Regions from separate parts of the Homo sapiens genome. Here regions 1, 2, 4 and 5 are each reported to be linked to region 3. Evidence: microRNA targets listed by miRTarBase, many of them from high-throughput screens and not tested one by one. Region 3 holds a microRNA gene; each other region holds the end of a gene's coding sequence. Distances are between the middles of the regions.
Evidence for each region. The annotated mature microRNA hsa-miR-6795-3p reads ACCCCUCGUUUCUUCCCCCAG and lies in region 3 at 2,164-2,184, shown strand. An mRNA with a match to its seed (bases 2 to 7 or 8) in the 3' UTR can be bound and repressed. Matches are read on the target gene's strand: a 7mer-m8 pairs with bases 2 to 8, a 7mer-A1 pairs with bases 2 to 7 and ends in A, and an 8mer does both.

Region 1 (4,031 bases), not on the chromosome of region 3:
CAGGCCATAGTCCTGGAGGCCGGTGGTCACCCACTGCTTCCACCCTGCCAGCACCCTGGACACCGGCCTGGAGCAACAATGCTCCAGCCCTGTCCCTCTGAGTCTATGCACTGTCCCTGGGCCCTGGACCCAGGGCCATAGGGTGGACCCAGAGGGAGACACATGCACTGGAATATGTGTGTTCTGACCGAGTCTGGGCTTACCAGGGGGACTGACCCTTCCCCCAAAACGTGTACCAGATCTGGTCCAACATGGTGGGCCTGGGGGACCCCATGGGGAGCCAAGCAGTCGGGATGGGGAGTGGGGGTGGGGGCAGGCGGGCCTGAGTCCGAGGCAGGCCGAGCAGGGCCCCTGCCCCGCTGCCCCCACCCCGCTGCGCCCACCTCACTGACCCGCCCGCCCCCCACCCCCACAGGACGCACATGCAGAACATCAAGGACATCACCAGCAGCATCCACTTCGAGGCGTACCGTGTGAAGCGCCTCAACGAGGGCAGCAGCGCCATGGCCAACGGCATGGAGGAGAAGGAGCCAGAAGCCCCGGAGATGTAGACGCCACCCTGCCCACCCCCGGGATCCTGCCCCCAAGTCATTTCCGTCCCCCCCCAGGCCCTCCCACCACCCCATTTTATTTTATATGATTTTCTCCATTTGTCATCGTTCCCCACCCCTTCGACATGCTGCCAGGAAACAAGGGAAGGGGCCTCCCTCCGAGTGAGTCAGTGATGAGGCCGCGGCCTCCCCGAGGTTGTGGGGAGGCTGCACTGGAGCCACAGGCAGGGGTGAGAGCACCCACTGAATTGACATGACCCTCTGTCCCCAGGCCTGGCTCCCCGAGGGCTCAGAAGAGCAGCTTCGGTGTGCAGATCATCCGTCTGTGTGGGGTTCTCAGTGCCGGAGGCCTTGGGGTGGGGGCCAGGCCTCGCACTTGCAGAGGAGCCCAGTGGGCTGCACGCTCCCCTCCATCCCCATCGGCCCTGTCCCCTGGAGTGTGTCAGAGCCCAGGGGAGAATGCAGCCCACCAGGAGCACCTGGACCCCCTGCCCGCCACATGGTGTGGCCATCACTCAGCCCCTACCCCTGCCCTGCTCCTAAGGGTAGAAAACTCCAGGGTCCCCTGCCACCGACTGCCCAGCCACTCCAAGCCCCCTGGCAGCTGCCCCTCCTGGAGCAGAAAGTGCCTTTATCTCAGCCATCCGCAGACTGCTTGGCCAGATGCGGGGACAGGCTGGAATGAGGGAGGCGTCTTCATCTCCCTGCCATCCCCCTCTCACGCCACCCCCGCCCCCACCGGGCTGCAGGTGCTGCTGATGCGCTGGGATCTGATTGAGGATAAAAAGGAAGGAGAGATGACCCCTACCCCCTCATCCCCCAGTTTTGAAAAGGTCTAAGCAAGTGAGTCTGGTGGAGGAGCTGAGGGAGGGAGCCATGGAAGGTGCCAGAAGGAAGGTTGGCGGGGGCACGTGTGGGCCGTGGCTTGGGCTGGTCAGAGTGGCGTGAGCTGCCCGGCGCCTGCCCTGCCCAAGTGACCAGGGAAGTGTGTGTGTGTCCATGTGTATGCGTGTCCGTCTGTCTGTCTAGTGTCTGGGTTTGGCCCAAGACTGGGCTGTAGTTACATTAATGCCCAGCCAGCCACCCCTGCCACTCACCCTTCCTGGCCCAGGCCTTGCTGACTCTCTGAGCTGGGGAGGTGGGAGGCCAGGCGAGCCTGACTCTGTTGATCTACCCGTGCCTGGGCCCCTCCCCTCAGAGCCCATGGTAACGAACCCCTAGAAAGGAGAGAACGGGCGTCAGGGGTGCACAGTCCACAGCTGAAGAGCAAGGTTTCGTGGCAGCACGGCCCGGCCCCTCACCCTCTGTCCCCACGAGGGGACCCATGGGGGCTGTCTTTGCAGGGCACAGATGACCAAAGTCCCTTCCTGCTTCCTGTTACCTGTCTTGCTCCTGGGGAGAAAGAGGGGCCTGATGAGACTCCACTCAGGTGCACACATCACCAGGTGCATCTGCAGGCACCGGGCTGGCTGCTTGCAGCCAGGAGAAGGTCAGCGAGAAGGAGTGTATGAGTGTGAGTGTGTGTGCATGGAAGTTGGGGCACTGGGCGTCTGACTCCCTCCCCACCCAAGAGAGGAAGGACCCCTCACCACCCCCACTGGTGAGACAGTTTACTTTGCCAACTTGCCATGTTTTTGCCAAAACCAAGATTTTGAAGGAAATGAGTGGCCAGCGCCAGGGCCCAGGCCATGTGGCCTGCCCAGCCTCAATGTCACTTGGTGGCGGGGTGGGGTGGGGGTGGGCAGCAGCATCCCAGCCTTGAGATGCTTCACTTTCCTTCTCTGTAACCAGACTTTGAAAAATTGTTCGTTTCATCAGGCTCTGTTCCTCAATGGCCTTTTGCTACGTGCCTCCCGAGAAATTTGTCTTTTTGTATAAATGACAAAGTGTTGAAAATGTATTTCCTGAAATAAATGTTTCAAATGCAGAAACCCAGAAGGCTCCTGAGTGAGAATGTTTTTTCTGCCCCTGAAGTGCAGTTCTTTGGGCCTCGGGACAGGTTGGGGTCAGCTGCAGGTGGGCAAGAAGCATGGGCAAGAAAAGGTAGGCCGGGCGCGGTGGCTCACGCCTGTAATCCCAGCACTTTGGGAGACTGAGGCAGTTGGATCACAAGGTGAGGAATTTGAGACCAGCCTGGCCAATATGGTGAAACCCCGTTTCTACTAAAAATACGAAAATTAGCTGGGCATGGTGGTGGGCGCCTGTAGTCCCAGCCACTCGGGAGGCTGAGGCAGAAGAATCGCTTGAACCCCGGGAGGTAGAGGTTGCAGTGAGCCAAGATCATGCCACTGCACTCCAGCCTGGGCGACAGAGCAAGATGCCATCTCAAAAAAAAAAAAAAAAGAAAAGGTAAGGCCAGGTCAGATCTCGAATTCAGACTCCCAAGATTTGAAACTAACAAACTCCCTGAGAACTTATAATTCCAGAGCACTGTGAAGAGTGAGAATAGCATCAAGGCGATTGCTGGGGCGTTGTTTAATCTACCTGGGGTAAAAGTTCCCAGGGCTTGAGAAGCACTCAGCGGAGATGACTGAAAAGTGAATGGCAGATCTGAACGCTTTCATTAAAGTGGGGGATCTGAAGGGCGTCCACAGGGGGCGCTGTGAGCTGCTTCTAGTTAGTGTATCCTTGAAAATAACTTTTTCTGTTTTATTTTTTGAGACAGGGTCTTGCTCTGTAACCCAGGTTGGAGTGCGGCGGCACGATCACAGCTCACTGCAGCCTCTACCTTCCAGGCTCAAGCGATCCTCCTGAGTAGCTGGGACCACAGGTGTGCACCACCACACCTGGCTAACTTTTTCATTTTTTGTCAAGATGGGATCTCACTATGTTGCCCAGGCTGATCTCAAATTCCTGGCCTCAGGTGATCCTCCTGCCTTGGCCTCCCGAAGTGCTGGGATTATAGGCGTGAGCCACTATGCCTGGCTGACAGTAAGTTTTTCTTTTAGAAATTTATATTAGATTGAACTCCAGACTGGTCAGTATTTGACAGTTGTTTTATGCCAACCTAACTCATTCCAAGAGAACTTGATTCCAAATAGATTAGAAGTCAGAGCCTTGGCTGAGTGAGCTTTTCTTTGCAGGTGAGCTTAGGAAGTAAGGTTCAGGGAGCTCTGGTCCGTATGCCCTTTGCGTGTGCAGAAGGGCCTCACCCGGATCCCTTCTCCCACGTGTATTAGTGCCCTGCAGCTGCCTTAACAGATGACCATGCAGCAGGGCTGAAAACAGCGGAAATTTATTCTCACAGTTCTAGAGGCCAGAGGTCTGAGATCCAGGTGTCCCAGGGCCTCGCTCCCTCCAAAGGCTCTAGAGGAGGTTCCTCTCTCCTCCCCCAGCTCCTGCTGGCCACTTCACCCCATCTCTGCCTCCGTCTTCACAGCCTTCTCTCTCTCTGTCCTGGAGGGTCAAGAGGGCCAAGAGGGCACTCTTCCAGGACTGAGGGCCCACCTTGATTCAGTTCGATCTCATTTAGATCCTCAC
Region 2 (4,031 bases), not on the chromosome of region 3:
AATAAAATAAAAGGAAAAAACCTTTTAGCATCACAGATATGCTTTGGCTGATTAAGATCAGTTAGAGGTTTTGTCCTTCTCTGCTACTCATTTGCAACCTGATTCTAGGTGATCTTCTTGGCCTCTATGTGATTCATCTGTAAACCTGGAAGAATATTTTTTTAAATATCAATGTACCCCTGAAGTACTGGTATAATGAAATAATGAATATAAACCTGTTATAAATATGAAGCACTTTTTAAATTTCACATAATAGTAATGGCATTTATCTTTGTGTCTTCATCATTTAAAAGTAAAATTCACGGCAGAAACTTGTATGTACAGTGTTACGTGTCTTGTGTTTATATAAGTTAAAAGTTGGATGATGAACTTTCATCATCCAACTATGAATGGTTGTCATTCATAACATAAACCAAGAAATATGTGTGCAGCAGAATATACCCATTTGCAGAAAACAGTAGCCTTCTTCTCTGGTTGGAAATACAACGACACTTTAGACCAATCAGAAACTGAGATTTCCTGAGGTGATGAAACTCAAGAACCATTTACTTGGTGGCTTTTTGAAATGTAATTGACGTAAGTGATGCAAATTTGCAATATAAATTTTCAGCATACTTTCATCTTTTAGTCATTAATGCTCTTCACTTCTTTCTCTTCTCTCCCTCCTCCTCGTTGCAGGGTGAAATCGCTCCGTTTTCTTGGGCAGCCCTACATGGTAAATTCAGGTCTCTGCTTACAACAGAACCTAGGGAAGATTTGTGACAGATGGGGCTAAGTCACAAACTTGCAGCCTAAGGCAGAATCTGAAGAACTTTCCAGAGTGTGCCCATATTTACCTGATCAGAGAGAAAAGAAAATCTGCAGAGGAAGCTGAGCCTGGCTGCTTGTCATAGCTGACACAGAGCCATCTGCCACAAACCTGTGGCGGCTTCAGATCTCCAATCCCTGCCACCACCCCAACTCAAATTAAATACAGATTCCTAGAGACGTTATGATGGTTACACATGTCCTCGGCATCACATGTAGGAGACTGTTCAAAAAAAATATGTGGCCTGTTGTATAACCGCACTCATGTATCCCATATGTGGTGCCACATTGAATTTCCGGTTGAATCCGTTTTTATCCTTTGTACTGGATGACATGGTGCCTGAATTCTTTCTTTTCGCCGACACGATGGCAGCCAAACTGCAGCTTCAAACGCTCACACTTGGCTGGGTTTCTACCTAGGTTGCCAGGTTATCATCGGAGCCTTCTTGTGTCCTCAAAGGGCCACGAGGCCTGAAAGGAGGATCAGAATGCTTTGGGATTAATTGGGCAGCCATCGCAGAATTGTTTGTGGGCAAAGGGCTGCTTTAGCACTTTTCTTTTAGCAAATTAATGACTCTCAGGCACAGGGGGTTTTAAGTGAAGGTATTAATAAGAGGTCTGGCAGGTATTCCCATGATTCACAGAGTTACATTTGCATTTAATTAATCTTAAAGTTGCAAGATAAACAGCTGTAATTCGGACAAACATGACAAACACAGTGAAGCCAACTATCCCATAAAATGAACACTGACATACTTGTTTTAATTTTTTTCCCAGCGTAAAAATAGAAAAATCAAAATACTCCTAACAAAACCAGTGATTTTGATAGAAATATTTCTCCAATATACTTGCATCCACCTACAAATATAACCTTTTCAAGATAAATCGCTTATGATTTCAATAGTCAAACTGCTGTGTTTGTTGATGTAAAGATGTTTTGAATGGCTAGATGGTAAAATAAATTCTTAATAAAGTACCCACTGCAATTTTTAATTAGCATATTCATTTACATATAGATGTATACATCTACCTATGTGTTTCTCACTGAACGTTTTCCTTGTGACAGAGACAACAAATACAATTGTTTCTTTTCCGGATGAACAAGGATCTGTTTTGCAAATGTTTGTAAGATATTATGACATTTCCAAGATTTTCTTTGCATTCTGGAAAGCAGGAGGTAAACATTTGTAGTCATTAAGGTAAAGTCTGTTGATAAACCATCTTCTGTTTACTGACAGGTAAATTGTAACTTTCCCTAGCTTTTGAAATGAGTAACTTCTATACACCACAAAGTGAGGCACAGCCTGGGAAAGGTGGCTAGACAAGGGGCAAGCCAGGCTTTCTAGCTTCTGGAAGGATCGAGTGGCCTAGCAGGCATCTAAGATAAAGAAAGCAATGATTCGGAAGTCCAGTAGGGCCCATTTGACCGGTAGCAAAATCGAAAGCACGAAATAGATCAAGGTTAGGGAGCCAGACAAAGCCCTTGGAAGAGAGGCAGTATTGCAGATCGAAGCAAGCAGTTCAGAGTCTATGAGGCCTGGGAATTTAAAAGCAGGAAGAGTAAGAAGCAGAAACAAGAAGCTCCATCTGAACAGACTCCTCTCTCCAACCTTCATGAGACCCACAGTGTGTGATGGGCCACCACAGCACTGGCTTCTAGACTTTTACAGGGAAGCCAGTGAACAAATTACCTCGTCACCCAGAAAACAAAGAGCTCAGGAACTATTTTGGAAGTTCCTTCCAGTCTAAGACTATGGAACTCAGAATCTAGCAGGTGTGTTCCTTTGGATAGCAAAACTAAAGATATAAATATGAATAAGAAATTCTTTGCCACTTCTCCTGGGCAAGGTTATACTTTATGCCATCTACTGAGATAAACCAGATGAGTCAGTTTGCTTCTGTCAGTTGCTGTGTCACAGATGACATCTTCTCAAAATAATATTATCTCACAGCCAAGAAATAGCGCTTCGTTTACTGTGTTTTTCTATCCTGAAACTAAATGGGCTTACGCTTCATAGTGGCTAAGATACTCCACACACAACTAGTACCCATAGATCTTTTCTCACTGATAGGAAAAAAAAAAAAAAAGCATTAAACACCTTTCAGAGAGTACATCTGAAACATTTACGTATTTTCCTGATTTAGGCAAATATAATATTGAAAGTTACCTGTATGTGGGCATTTTTTTCTACACTCATAAATGCAAATCAAATTTTGCCATTAGCTGTGGCCAACATTCCTTCCAGGACAAAAGCTTACATTAGGCCGGGTGCGGTGGCGCACGCCTGTAATCCCAGCACTTTGGGAGGCCGAGACGGGTGGATCATGAGGTCAGGAGATCGAGACCATCCTGGCTAACACGGTGAAACCCCATCTCTACTAAAAATACAAAAAAAATTAGCCAGGCATGGTGGCGGGTGCCTGTAGTCCCAGCTACTGGGGAGGCTGAGGCAGGAGAATGGCGTGAACCCAGGAGGCGGAGCTTGCAGTGAGCCGAGATCGTGCCACTGCACTCCAGCCTGGGCGACAGAGCGAGACTCTGTCTCAAAAAATAAATAAATAAATAAATTTAAAATAAATTTTAAAAAAATTACATTAAAGGTGTCACTTATTTGCATGATACCGAGATTTGGAGTTTAAAGAAAAACCTTATAAAGACTGTAATGTCAGAGTTGCTACTAGTTCACATAAGCAATAAAAAGTTTTGTAAATGTGTAATTCTTAACATTTAAAAATATGTAGGAGTGTGTGTGTGTGTGTGTGTGTGCACACGCACATTCATGCTTCTCAACACCCACGACCTAGTGGAATGGAGTGTTATTAAATAAGTTAATCAGTATTTTGTTGAAATCTCAGCAGATAATTAGTACTACACGTTGACTCATTAATTCAGTTTCCCTTATCAACCACCCCCATCATTTATTGTTTTGAGTATGTTTGATGGAAAACTTAGTCTTCCTCTTTTTTTTTAACACTCGATTGTTTTTTTCTTTTAAAATAAAGTCAATTTTAATTTTAAATGTCTTTAAAAGTCCATCCATTATCAAGACTTTGACACAGTGTCTTGAAATACAGCTTGCCCTAAACTTAATCTATGCTTCTGGCTAGGTGTTTCTATAACAAATATCAGGGCACCTGGTTCTTAACCTTCTCATTTATACTGTGTTGACAGAAATAGATGCAAATACCTTTTTAAAAATGCTCCTGGTTTAATAAGCATCCTT
Region 3 (4,068 bases):
CACTGCGGACTCTGATGACTGATGGGGCAGGGCCAGGGAAGGAGCAGGGCGTCTGTTTGGAGCTCACCTTGGAGTCTCTGGTGCCTGAGAGGGCATGGCTTCCAGGTGGCTCTCACCTTAGGGCTGAAGTCCCTGGTGAATTGGAGCTAAGGGACCTGATTGGCTTCTGCTGGGGCTGCAGCTTCTTGCCGAGATAAGGGTCAGGGAGTGGGACGTCCCCAGCGCTAACAGCGGGACTCAGGAAGGAGGGCAGGGCCTGTGAGGGGGCGGAGCCTGATCCTCCCTCCCACTCCTTCCGCTCCAGCTCCTGCTTCAATGGCGGGACCTGTGTGGACGGCGTGAACTCGTTCAGCTGCCTGTGCCGTCCCGGCTACACAGGAGCCCACTGCCAACATGAGGCAGACCCCTGCCTCTCGCGGCCCTGCCTACACGGGGGCGTCTGCAGCGCCGCCCACCCTGGCTTCCGCTGCACCTGCCTCGAGAGCTTCACGGGCCCGCAGTGCCAGGTGGGTGGAGTTACTGGGGACCTGGGGGAGGAGCCTGCCTGGGATCCTAGGAGGGAGAAGCCAAGTCGGGGCACAGTTTCTCCCAGACTACCCCCCACCCCACAGTACTGACTCTGAGTGCTTCCCCTCCAGACGCTGGTGGATTGGTGCAGCCGCCAGCCTTGTCAAAACGGGGGTCGCTGCGTCCAGACTGGGGCCTATTGCCTTTGTCCCCCTGGATGGAGCGGACGCCTCTGTGACATCCGAAGCTTGCCCTGCAGGGAGGCCGCAGCCCAGATCGGTGAGTGGGAGCATGTGGGCGGGCGTGTGGGGCCTTGGGAAGGGGCTCATGCACGTACCTCCTGCTAGTGTGAGCCGAATGGGGGTGCCACAGAGCCTATGGGGCATGATGGGGTGTGTGGCTGAGTGGTGTGGGTGTGTGAGCATGTGACAACTGGCCGGGATGGTGTGTGTCTGTCACTGTGAGACAGCAGGGATGGTGTGTGTGCTACAGGGTGTGACCGAGCTGCTGTGAGCGTTGAAGGCATGTGTGTGTATGTCAGTGATGAGACCTTGCCTGCTGGGGGGATGTGTGACAACCTGATGGAGTGTGGGTGCGATCCTGGGGACTCATTCCACCAAGGATGTTGAATGATCTGTGTGATGGAGGCAGAAGGGGGATGTATGGGGTTACCTCTGTTCCTGTGCCACTCTCCTCTTTGCAGGGGTGCGGCTGGAGCAGCTGTGTCAGGCGGGTGGGCAGTGTGTGGATGAAGACAGCTCCCACTACTGCGTGTGCCCAGAGGGCCGTACTGGTAGCCACTGTGAGCAGGAGGTGGACCCCTGCTTGGCCCAGCCCTGCCAGCATGGGGGGACCTGCCGTGGCTATATGGGGGGCTACATGTGTGAGGTAAGGGGGCGCTCCCCAGGAGAGGGAAGAGGAGGTGGGCATGCTTGGGTGCGTCTGGGCACACATTTCTGTGTGGCTTGGTATGGGTATGTCTCTAGATATGTCTGAGTTTTTGCTTTTGTGACTCTTGGTGTATCTGTGGGTGTCACTCTGGGTAGATCTGGGGTGTTTTTTTATTTGTTTGTTTTTTTGAGACAGGTTCTCACTCTGTCACCCAGACGAGTGCAGTGGCGCGATCTCAGCTCACTGCAACCTTTGCCTCCTGGGTTCAGGTGATTCTTCTGCTTCAGCCTCTCATTATAGCTGGGAGTACAGGCACCCACCACCACGCCCAGCTAATTTTTGTATTTTTCATAGTGACAGGGTTTCACCATGTTGGCCAGGCTGGTCTCGAACTCCTGATCTCAGGTGATCTGCCCACCTCGGCCTCCCAAAGTGCTGGGATTACCTACTGGTAGTGCGCTGAACATCTGTGTGTGTCCTTTTGTGCTGGGGTTCTTTGCGTCTTCATGGGTATGTCCAGGTGGGTCTGTGTCCCACTAAGCTGAGTGGGTCCCTCTCTTACCCCACTGAAGTGTCTTCCTGGCTACAATGGTGATAACTGTGAGGACGACGTGGACGAGTGTGCCTCCCAGCCCTGCCAGCACGGGGGTTCATGCATTGACCTCGTGGCCCGCTATCTCTGCTCCTGTCCCCCAGGAACGCTGGGTATGCCAGGGCCAGGGTTGGGGGGACAGGATGAGAGGCTGTCTTCATTCCCTCTTGACCACCCCTCGTTTCTTCCCCCAGGGGTGCTCTGCGAGATTAATGAGGATGACTGCGGCCCAGGCCCACCGCTGGACTCAGGGCCCCGGTGCCTACACAATGGCACCTGCGTGGACCTGGTGGGTGGTTTCCGCTGCACCTGTCCCCCAGGATACACTGGTTTGCGCTGCGAGGCAGACATCAATGAGTGTCGCTCAGGTGCCTGCCACGCGGCACACACCCGGGACTGCCTGCAGGACCCAGGCGGAGGTTTCCGTTGCCTTTGTCATGCTGGCTTCTCAGGTAAGCGTTGGCGAAGGGGCTGGCCTGGGACCCCGCCTGTCATTCCCCCATTGTGGCTGATCTACATGCTCCCGCTCGCTCAGGTCCTCGCTGTCAGACTGTCCTGTCTCCCTGCGAGTCCCAGCCATGCCAGCATGGAGGCCAGTGCCGTCCTAGCCCGGGTCCTGGGGGTGGGCTGACCTTCACCTGTCACTGTGCCCAGGTAGGTGTGGGTGGCGGCCTTTGGAGGAGGAGTAGGGGCGTGGCCTCTGGAGTAGTAGGGGCGTGGCGTCTAGGAGGAGGATGTGGCTTTAGGGGAGACATCGAAGGGAAGGGAGTTTCTGGAAAATGCTGACATTTCCGCCGGGTGTGGTAGCTCACACCTGTAATCCCAGCACATTGGGAGGCCGAGGCGGGAGGATCACTTGAGGCCAGGAGTTAGAGACCAGCCTGGGCAACATGGTGAAACCCCGTCTCTACTAAAAATATAAAAATTAGCCGGGCGTAGTGGCAGCTGCCTGTAATCCCAGCTACTCGGGAGGCTGAGGCAGGAGAATCACTTGAACCCGGGAGGCGGAGGTTGCAGTGAGCCATCACGCCATTGCACTCCAGCCTGGCGACTGAGTGACACTCCGTCTCAAAAAACAAAGAAACAACCCCCTGCCCCGACATTTCCTGGAGGTTTGAAGGGAAAAGGGTGAGGATGGTGATTGGGGGGCGTGGCCTCCTGGGATGGCAGGGCTTATCTGCCAGGTGGGGTCTCCAGTGTGGAAAGGGGAGCGGTTGGGTGGGACATGGGGAGGTTGAGGGGGTCTCAACCTTCCTTAGTCTTGACCTCTTCTCTTCCCCCTCTCTCCCCTTGACTCTTCTTTTCCCCACTCCTCCATTTCTTCTCCTCCTTCCCTCCACTCCCCACCCTCATTTTTATCCCTCCCTCCCCAAACCCGACCCCCAGCCGTTCTGGGGTCCGCGTTGCGAGCGGGTGGCGCGCTCCTGCCGGGAGCTGCAGTGCCCGGTGGGCGTCCCATGCCAGCAGACGCCCCGCGGGCCGCGCTGCGCCTGCCCCCCAGGGTTGTCGGGACCCTCCTGCCGCAGCTTCCCGGGGTCGCCGCCGGGGGCCAGCAACGCCAGCTGCGCGGCCGCCCCCTGTCTCCACGGGGGCTCCTGCCGCCCCGCGCCGCTCGCGCCCTTCTTCCGCTGCGCTTGCGCGCAGGGCTGGACCGGGCCGCGCTGCGAGGCGCCCGCCGCGGCACCCGAGGTCTCGGAGGAGCCGCGGTGCCCGCGCGCCGCCTGCCAGGCCAAGCGCGGGGACCAGCGCTGCGACCGCGAGTGCAACAGCCCAGGCTGCGGCTGGGACGGCGGCGACTGCTCGCTGAGCGTGGGCGACCCCTGGCGGCAATGCGAGGCGCTGCAGTGCTGGCGCCTCTTCAACAACAGCCGCTGCGACCCCGCCTGCAGCTCGCCCGCCTGCCTCTACGACAACTTCGACTGCCACGCCGGTGGCCGCGAGCGCACTTGCAAGTGAGCCCATCCACCCGATCGATCCGTCTGTCTATGCATCCATCCCAGTCTGTTTGTCCGTGGGCCCTGCCTCTCTTTCCACCTGCCCATCCACTTGCCCCGTCTGTTTCTCTGTGCACTCTATCT
Region 4 (4,031 bases), not on the chromosome of region 3:
CTAGGACATTGAGGTGCTGCTGGGCCACGGGGCAGACCCAGGCATCAGGGACAGGCATGGCCGCTCTGCGCTGCACAGGGCTGCCGCCCGAGGACACCTGCTTGCCGTCCAGTTGCTGGTCACCCAGGGGGCCGAGGTGGATGCGCGGGACACCCTGGGCCTCACACCCCTGCATCACGCCTCTCGGGAAGGCCACGTGGAGGTTGCCGGCTGCCTGCTGGACAGGGGTGCCCAGGTGGATGCTACCGGCTGGCTCCGAAAGACCCCCCTACACCTGGCTGCAGAGCGAGGGCATGGGCCTACCGTGGGGCTTCTGCTGAGCCGAGGGGCCAGCCCCACTCTGCGGACGCAGTGGGCCGAGGTGGCCCAGATGCCTGAGGGGGACCTGCCCCAGGCGCTGCCTGAACTTGGAGGGGGGGAGAAGGAGTGTGAGGGCATAGAGTCCACGGGCTGAGCCAGACAGCAGGCTCCAGGCTCCACCGCCCCAGTGATTTCCAGGCTCTCTGGCTGAGGCTGCCTGCCTGGAGGGGACATCAGGGAAGAGGCTTCCGGAGGAGGGGATGGGAGAAAGTAGGGGATGTGGCTTGAGCTGCAGTCACAGGCCTTGGCTGGACCAGGGATGGCCCCCAGCTCCCAGGAGGGCCCACTGACCCTGCAGCTCCAGCCTTCTCCATACTTCAACAAAGAATGAGTTGTGGCAATGAGGGAAGAGAGACCCTCTCATAGTGTTTTATACTCAGTACCTGTTTTAAGAAAAAACAACAAGGAAGTAAAACCAAAGACAGGCAGGCAGCCTGGCGCTAGGCCCGAAACCAGGCCTGCGCCTGCCTGGCCTAAACCCAGTAGTTGAAAATCAATTCATAACTTAGAAACCGATGTTATTCATAGATTCCAGACATTGTATAGAAGAACATTTGTGAAACTCCCTGCCGTGTTCTGTTTCTCTCTGACCGCCGGTGCATGCAGCCCCTGTCACGTACCGCCTGCTTGCTCAAATCAATGACGACCCTTTCATGTGAAATCTTCGGTGTTGTGAGCCCTTAAAAGGGACAGAAATTGTGCACTTGGGGAGCTCGGATTTTAAGGCAGTAGCTTGCCGATGCTCCCAGCTGAATAAAGCCCTTCCTTCTACAACTGGGTGTCTGAGAGGTTTTGTCTGCGGCTCGTCCTGCTACATTTCTTGGTTCCCTGACTGGGAAACGAGGTAACTGACAGACGACCGAGGCAGCCCCTTAGGCGGCTTAGGCCTGCCCCGTGGAGCATCCCTGCGGGGGACTCCGGCCAGCCTGAGTGACGTGAGCTAAAGAGCGCTCCCGGGTAGGAAATTGCCTCGGTGGAACACCTCGCCAGAGCAGCCCATAACGGGCCCCCATGGTGGATTAACACAGTGGCTGAACACCGGGAAGGAACTGGCACTTGGAGTCCGGACATCTGAAACCTGGTAAGACTAGTCTTTGGAACTTGCCCCACTCCACCTGAGTAGACGCGTGGCCTGATCGCCCACGGCGTGCCTGCATTAGCACCTTTGTTCTGGTTTTGACTTGACTGAGATCATGTGATACTTTGGTTTTGGTTTTGACCTGGCTTGGATTTCTGGATACTCTGATTTTGGTTTTGATTTTGGTTTGGTGTAAACTGCAAAAGTGTGTGTGTGCCCTTTTTACCTGTTTTTTGTTTTGTGGTGTGAGCGTGGTGTTTTGTCTTGAAGAAGCGTGGGTCAGGCACAGATAAGCCCACCCCACTAGGAACTATGTTAAAAAAAATTTTTCAAGAAAGAATTTAAGGGAGATTACGGTGTTACTCTGACACCAGGAAAACTTACAACTTTGTGTGAAATAGACTTGTCAGCATTAGAGGTGGGTTGGCCATCAGAAGGAAGCCTGGACAGGTCCCTTGTTTCAAAGGTATGACACAAGGTAACGTGTAAGCCAAGGCACCCAGGCCAGTTTCCGTACATGGACAGTTAGAGCAGGTTTTAGACCCCCTCCCCCCTACGGTAGTTAAGAGAACAGCAGCATAAGCGGCTGGCAGAGGCAAGGAAAGACCAGCAGAGAGAAAAAGAGGCCATCTATACCAATTCTAAGTTAATTTAGACTAAACAAGGTCTTATTAATAGCAAAGGATAATTGAAATCCCAAACTTCCAAGGTTTTCAACAAAAGCGAAGTTTGCTAAAAGTTAACAGTGTAACATGTTAATGGTAACTTTTAATCTTGTGGCCTCAGACAGTCTAGTCCAAAGACATAAAAAAAGTTCGCTTTAAAAAAGAAAAAAAAAGGGGAGGCTGAATTTATGTGAAAAGCATGTTATACGGTAAATTCTTGTCCTGAAATATATTAACTGGTTGTTTAAAAGTTTGTAATAAGGCAGAAAGTTGAGATATGTTGAAGAATTGTCGGCGAAAGTTGTAAAACAAAATGTTATAAAAAATTTATGCAAAAAATGTTGTATAATTTAAAAGTAATAAGGCCTCCTGAGTACTATTTTTTTTTTTTTTTTTTTTGAGACGGAGTCTCACTCTGTTGCCCAGGCTGGAGTGCAGTGGCGTGATCTCGGCTCACTGCAAGCTCCGCCTCCCGGGTTCACGCCATTCTCCTGCCTCAGCCTCCCGAGTAGCTGGGACTACAGGCGCCCGCCACCACGCCTGGCTAATTTTTTGTATTTTTAGTAGAGACGGGGTTTCACCGTGTTAGCCAAGATGGTCTCGATCTCCTGACCGCGTGATCCGCCCGCCTCGGCCCCCCAAAGTGCTGGGATTACAGGCGTGAGCCACCGCGCCTGGCCCCTGAGTACTATTAAAAAAAAAAGTTTATGTGCAAGGTGTACAAGAAAAGTAAAATATACCTTTGGTAAAAAAAATTATAAAGGGGCATAAAAATATGGATTTTTACCTACATTAAAAGGTTAAAAAAATTATTGTTTTTAAGAGTTTAAGCAAGTTTTAAAATGTAAATTGTAAAGAAAATTCTGTGTGTAAACATGTTAACTAAAGTTAAAAAGGTATCGTCCAGTTTTTCTGTGAACTGGACATTAAAGTAAAAATGCAACAGGTTTTTCTTAAAGCATCAACCTGCTCTTTAACAAAAGTTATAAAAGGTTAAAAAGAGTCTATAAAATCTTACCTTATGGTCAAACATGAAAAATTGGATAAATATGTCTACAAGGTTTTATTAAAATTAAGTTTAACATTAATAACACACTAATATAAAGGTAAAATTTAGCTTATCTGGTATAAAAATCATACAAGAAGCATTATTAAATATAAAATGGTGTTTAGCTTTCTTTGGTCTAAAAACTAATAAAAATAGGTGCTAAAGGAAACATTCATTTTACTAGAGGATCATGGAAGTTTAAGACTTAAAACAAACTTTGGCAATTAAGACAGCATACCAAGATGCAAAATGCCTGGTTGAAATGGATCAGATATTCCATCTGATGTTAAACAAAAGCAATTGTGATGCTCGTGCACATGGCAGGCCAAAGGCTCTGATTGTCCCCCTTCCACTAAGGTGGTCCTTCAGTCGACCAGGCGTGGGCTGCACGGTAGCTCTTTTCCAGGATTCTACAGCCTGGAGCAGCAAGTCATGCCAAGCTCTCCCCGCTACATTCTGCAGTCCCTGCGGGTCAGCCCCCGAGGGCCATCCAGCTTCCGTCTCCCAAAACTAAGTTCCCTTCGTGTCTCTCACGGCAGGGAGGAGACTTAGCAGTCCTTGGAGACTGGAAGGGATGCAGTGAGCTTAAGAATTTTCGAGAGCTTATCAATCAGTCAGCCCTTGTTCATCCCTGAGCGGATGTGAGCGGATGTGTGGTGGTATTGTGGTGGACCTGTACTGGGCACTCTGCCGAATAACTAGAGTGGCACTTGTGCTTTAGTCCGTTTGGCTATCCCTTTCACCCTGGCATTTCATCAACCAGAGGAGAAAAAAAAAAAAAGACATCGTAAAGCGAGAGAAGCCCCTTATGGGTCTTTCAACTCTCACATCTATTTAGACGCAATTGGAGCCCCACAAGGGACACCAGATCAATTTAAAG
Region 5 (4,031 bases), 32 Mb from region 3:
GCAGTGAACTGAGATTGTGCCACTGCACTCCAGCTTGCGAGACAGAGTGAGATTCTGTGGGAGACAGAGCGAGACTCCCTCTCAAAAAAAAAAAAAAAAAAAAAAAGAGAAATCTATGGGCTCACAAATCTGAAGGTTGAAAAGTCCCAGATGGTGGGGCTGGTATTTGGTGAGGGCCTTCCGGCTTCCTTGTAACATAGCGGAAGGCATCTCATCTGAGACAGAGGGGTGAACTCATTCTTTATAAGGAATCCATTCCCGTGAAAACTCACTCACTTCCATGGTCATGGCATTAGTGCATTTCTGAGAGCAGAGCCCTGGTGACGTAATTATCTCTTAAATGTCTCACTTCTAAAATCTGTAGCACTGCAGGTTAAATTTCCAACCCAAGAACTTTGGGGGACACATTCGTATCCCAACACACGGTTTTATCAAATGCTTCTCCAAAGTGATTGTTGCCAGTTACCACACCCTGGCCATCCAGATGGGCCATTTCCCCTAGTGTCCCTTTAGCAGCAAGGACAGTTGGGAAAGGGTGGAGCTGGGACTGACCCTGTGTCTGTAAATATTATATAATTATATACCCTGCTTCAGAGTCCCCCTCTGTTGCCCTGGAGTGCAGTGGCATGATCATAGTTCACTGTAGCTTCCAACTCCTGGGCTCAAGCTATGATCCCCCTGCCTCATCCTCCTGAGTAGTGGGTACTATAGGCATGTGCCACCATGCCCAGCGAATTAAAAAAATTATTTTTGTGTGTGTGGAGATGGAGTCTTGCTATGTTTCTAGGCTGTTCTTTTTTTTTTTTTTTGAGACGGAGTCTCGCTCTGTCGCCCAGGCCGGACTGCGGACTGCAGTGGCGCAATCTCGGCTCACTGCAAGCTCCGCTTCCCAGGTTCACGCCATTCTCCTGCCTCAGCCTCCCGAGTAGCTGGGACTACAGGCGCCCGCCACCGCGCCCGGCTAATTTTTTGTATTTTTAGTAGAGACGGGGTTTCACCTTGTTAGCCATGATGGTCTCGATCTCCTGACCTCATGATCCACCCGCCTCGGCCTCCCAAAGTGCTGGGATTACAGGTGTGAGCCACCACACCTGGCCTATACCTTGCTTCTTTCTCTTTCTTTCCTTTTTTTTTTTTTTCTGGAGACAGTCTCCCTCTGTCGCCCAGGCTGGCGTACAGTGGTGCAATCTCGGCTCACTTGCAACCTCTGCCTCCCGGGTTCAAGGGATTCTCCTGTCTCAGCCTCTCGAGTAGTTGGGACTACAGGCTTGCATCGCCACACCTGGCTAATTTTTGTATTTTTAGTAGAGACAGGGTTTCACCATGTTGGCCAAGCTGGTCTCGAACTCCTGATCTCAGGTGATTCGCCCACCTTGGCCTCCCAAAGTGTTGGGATTATGCCCTTCCTTCCTTCCTTCCAGACAGGGTCTTGCTCTGTCACCTAGGCTAGAATGCAATGGCAGGATCTTGGCTCGCTGTAACCTTTATCTCCTAGGTTCAAGCAATTCTCCTGCTTCAGCCTCTTCAGTAGCTGGGATTACAGACACTCGCTACCACGCTCAGCTAATTTTTGTATTTTTAGTAGAGACGGGGTTTCGCCATGTTGGTCAGGCTCGTCTCGATCTCCTGACCTCAGGTGATCTGCCTACCTCCCTGCTTCTCATTGAGGTCTCTGCCAGTCAGGTATCAGCACAGGGAAAGGGCTCAAGGGCAGTGTGTGGCCATGGCCCTGTTTGCAGAAGATGGCAGTAGGAGCAACCCTTTCTACATTTACTCAACACAGCCGCTTATGACCAGCCTGGTTAGGCCTCAGGGCAGTGTGCGGAGACTCACTGTGATCTTAGCTCCAGGTGCTCCTCCAGCTGGAGAGGCAGCCTACGGCTGATCACAGTGCAAGGCCAGATGTCCCTTTCTGTCTCTGTGACGGCAGAAACGAGGTCTGTCTCATGACTCTATCCCAAGCACTTGTCACAGTGGTGCCTCTGAATATGTTACGGGTCATTCACTCATCCATTAAATATCAAGCGCCCCTACAACACCTCATGGGGACTTCACTTTTTATTTTGTTTTTGAGACAGGGTCTCACCCTGTCACCCAAGCTTGAGTGCAGTGGCTTGATCATCGCTCACTGCAGCCTCCAATTCCTGGGCTCAAGTGATCCTCCTGCCTCAGCCTCCTGAGTAGCTGGGACTACAGACACACACCACCATGCCTGGCTAATTTTTTTTATTTTTTTATTTTTGTAGAGACGGAGTTTCATCGTGTTGCCCAGGATGGTCTTGAACTCCTGGGTTCAAGAGATCTACCCACCTCGGCCTCTCAAAGTGCTGGGATTACAGGCATGAGCCATGGCACCAGGCCAAGCTTCACTTTTACCGGGAATGGGGATGATGAAGGCTAGGAGCGTCCCGGTCTGGAGAAGCCCAGGCCCCTTAGCCTTTCTTCTGATGGAGCCACAACTGCCAGGGCCCACCTCTCCCACCCACTCACAAGCAGGGCTCACAGAGCAGAGCCCCCGATCAGAAGCCTCTCCAAGGCCAGGCTGCAGGGAAGGCAAGCAGAAAGAGTATCCACTGTTCCAATCTGATTTTATTGAAAAGGAAACATACAAAAATCATGTACAAAAAAAATTAACCAAACATGTACAGAAAATTCATTCCGGTATCTACAGCAGCGCATATACAGTATCTTACAGGCTGGGCCATCCCTCCCCACTCCCAGACTCCTCCCTCTTCCGAGATTTCCCCCCCTCCCTGACTCCCCGTCTTCCCCCCAGCGCTTGGCCCTGGGGACTAAGGCTGGGGCGGCTTCAGCCAAAATCTCCCACCCCCCAAATGAATGCCAGTGGTCACACGTGCTCTCTCTAAACCTATGCAATGGGATTGATGGGGCGGGGGGCGGTCACGGGCAGAGCACAGGATTCACAGTCTGGGCCCCTCCTGGCCACCCCCTGATGAAGGTGAGGCAGGCATGCCCACCACCCGCCGGCTGGCTCAGGGAAGATGGCTGGGCGCCGGGCTGGAGCAACCGGCAAACGAGCCCCACTCTCTGGCTCCAGGAGGCTAGTGGTCACGTTTGGCTCATTTGCTCTTCACGGGCCCCCTCCCAGGAGGAGGGGGGGAAGCACCAGGGGCCTGAGGCCAGGCCCAGAGTGAAGGAGCACCGAGAGGAGAGCCCCCCCCTCCCAGTGTCACCCCTGCAGCTGGAACGGGCACCAGCACAACAGCCTTTCCTGAGATGGTGGTGGGCGGCAGAGGCGGGCGGCTCAGTCCCCACCCCCTCGGTCACCGCCACCTTCCGATGCTGAGTCCATCAGCCGTCCCTCTCCTGGCTTCTTGGCCAGGGACCCAGGAGTCCGCATCTCCGTCAGTGCACCCCAGGCTGGGCTGGGGCTGGAGTGGCTGCCCCGGCCCGCCCCCGGGACAGGCAGGGCTGGGAGTCCAGTATGCTACATGGTGCAGAGAAAGTCCCCCGCGCTGGCCAGGGTGTCAGGAGGTGGGAGGGGCCTGCCCCCCGAGTCCCTGACGTCCACCGGGCGGGTGCAGGCACCTAATTGGGCTCCATCTCGGGGGCTCTGTGGCCCCTGGGTAAGGGCAGGAGTCCCATGATGAGATTGTACAGGACCCTCCAGGGTGAGGGGCGGTGCCGCTGCTGCTCCTCTTGTCTCTGGGGAAAAGAGAGAGAAGGGGCAGTTAGCAGGGGACTGAGTATGGTGATGGGAGTGGGGATGGTCAGCTCCAGGGGCAGCGAGGCGACAGTCTCGCCCACCCTATTCCAGCTCCTCCCCCCGCCTGGGCTAATGTCCATGTCTCGGAGGTCACATCCTCATCCAGGACATGAGACCTGGAGGCAGAGGACAAACACGGAATGCCTTCAGCAGAGAGCTGGGCACCAAGCGAGTGCGTGGCACATTAGCTGTGACTGCCCCGTCTCTGTTGTACATTTGAGAAAGACATCCCCCAAGGGGCTGAAGGATGGACTGCAACCTATCCTGCCCCTCCCTACAGGGCTGGCAAGATGAGGAGAAAGGA

Region 1: the mRNA of SEPTIN9 is a reported target of hsa-miR-6795-3p. Seed matches in the 3' UTR shown: 8mer at 1,865-1,872.
Region 2: the mRNA of QTMAN is a reported target of hsa-miR-6795-3p. The part of its 3' UTR that is shown has no 7-base or 8-base seed match.
Region 4: the mRNA of ANKRD65 is a reported target of hsa-miR-6795-3p. Seed matches in the 3' UTR shown: 7mer-A1 at 525-531 and 7mer-A1 at 555-561.
Region 5: miRTarBase lists BBC3 as a target of hsa-miR-6795-3p. Seed matches in the 3' UTR shown: 7mer-m8 at 3,277-3,283.

Annotation. Positions count from the first base shown.
Region 1 is chr17:77,498,108-77,502,138 of GRCh38, forward strand. SEPTIN9 (septin 9) reads left to right here. Exons shown (of 12, transcript NM_001113491.2): 12 at 416-2,486. The coding sequence ends at 551. Among named protein-coding and RNA genes, the nearest start is that of MIR4316, 100 kb to the left of the region's middle.
Region 2 is chr2:143,943,783-143,947,813 of GRCh38, reverse strand. It overlaps QTMAN (queuosine-tRNA mannosyltransferase), which reads left to right. Exons shown (of 12, transcript NM_001376312.2): 12 at 679-4,031. The coding sequence ends at 762. The region is part of intron 2 of QTMAN-AS1 (QTMAN antisense RNA 1); the gene reads right to left. Among named protein-coding and RNA genes, the nearest start is that of QTMAN-AS1, 8.7 kb to the right of the region's middle.
Region 3 is chr19:15,177,399-15,181,466 of GRCh38, reverse strand. It overlaps MIR6795 (microRNA 6795), which reads left to right and starts at 2,117; the gene lies at 2,117-2,184. NOTCH3 (notch receptor 3) reads left to right here. Exons shown (of 33, transcript NM_000435.3): 18 at 305-506; 19 at 639-786; 20 at 1,211-1,395; 21 at 1,971-2,103; 22 at 2,185-2,442; 23 at 2,526-2,644; 24 at 3,377-3,942. RefSeq lists an enhancer at 1-282 and a silencer at 3,653-3,822.
Region 4 is chr1:1,415,523-1,419,553 of GRCh38, reverse strand. ANKRD65 (ankyrin repeat domain 65) reads left to right here. Exons shown (of 4, transcript NM_001145210.3): 4 at 5-1,134. The coding sequence ends at 454. Among named protein-coding and RNA genes, the nearest start is that of ANKRD65-AS1, 2.6 kb to the left of the region's middle. RefSeq lists enhancers at 609-1,058, 1,226-1,305.
Region 5 is chr19:47,218,253-47,222,283 of GRCh38, forward strand. BBC3 (BCL2 binding component 3) reads right to left here. Exons shown (of 4, transcript NM_014417.5): 4 at 2,572-3,666. The coding sequence ends at 3,550. Among named protein-coding and RNA genes, the nearest start is that of MIR3190, 6.7 kb to the right of the region's middle. RefSeq lists a silencer at 1,767-1,967.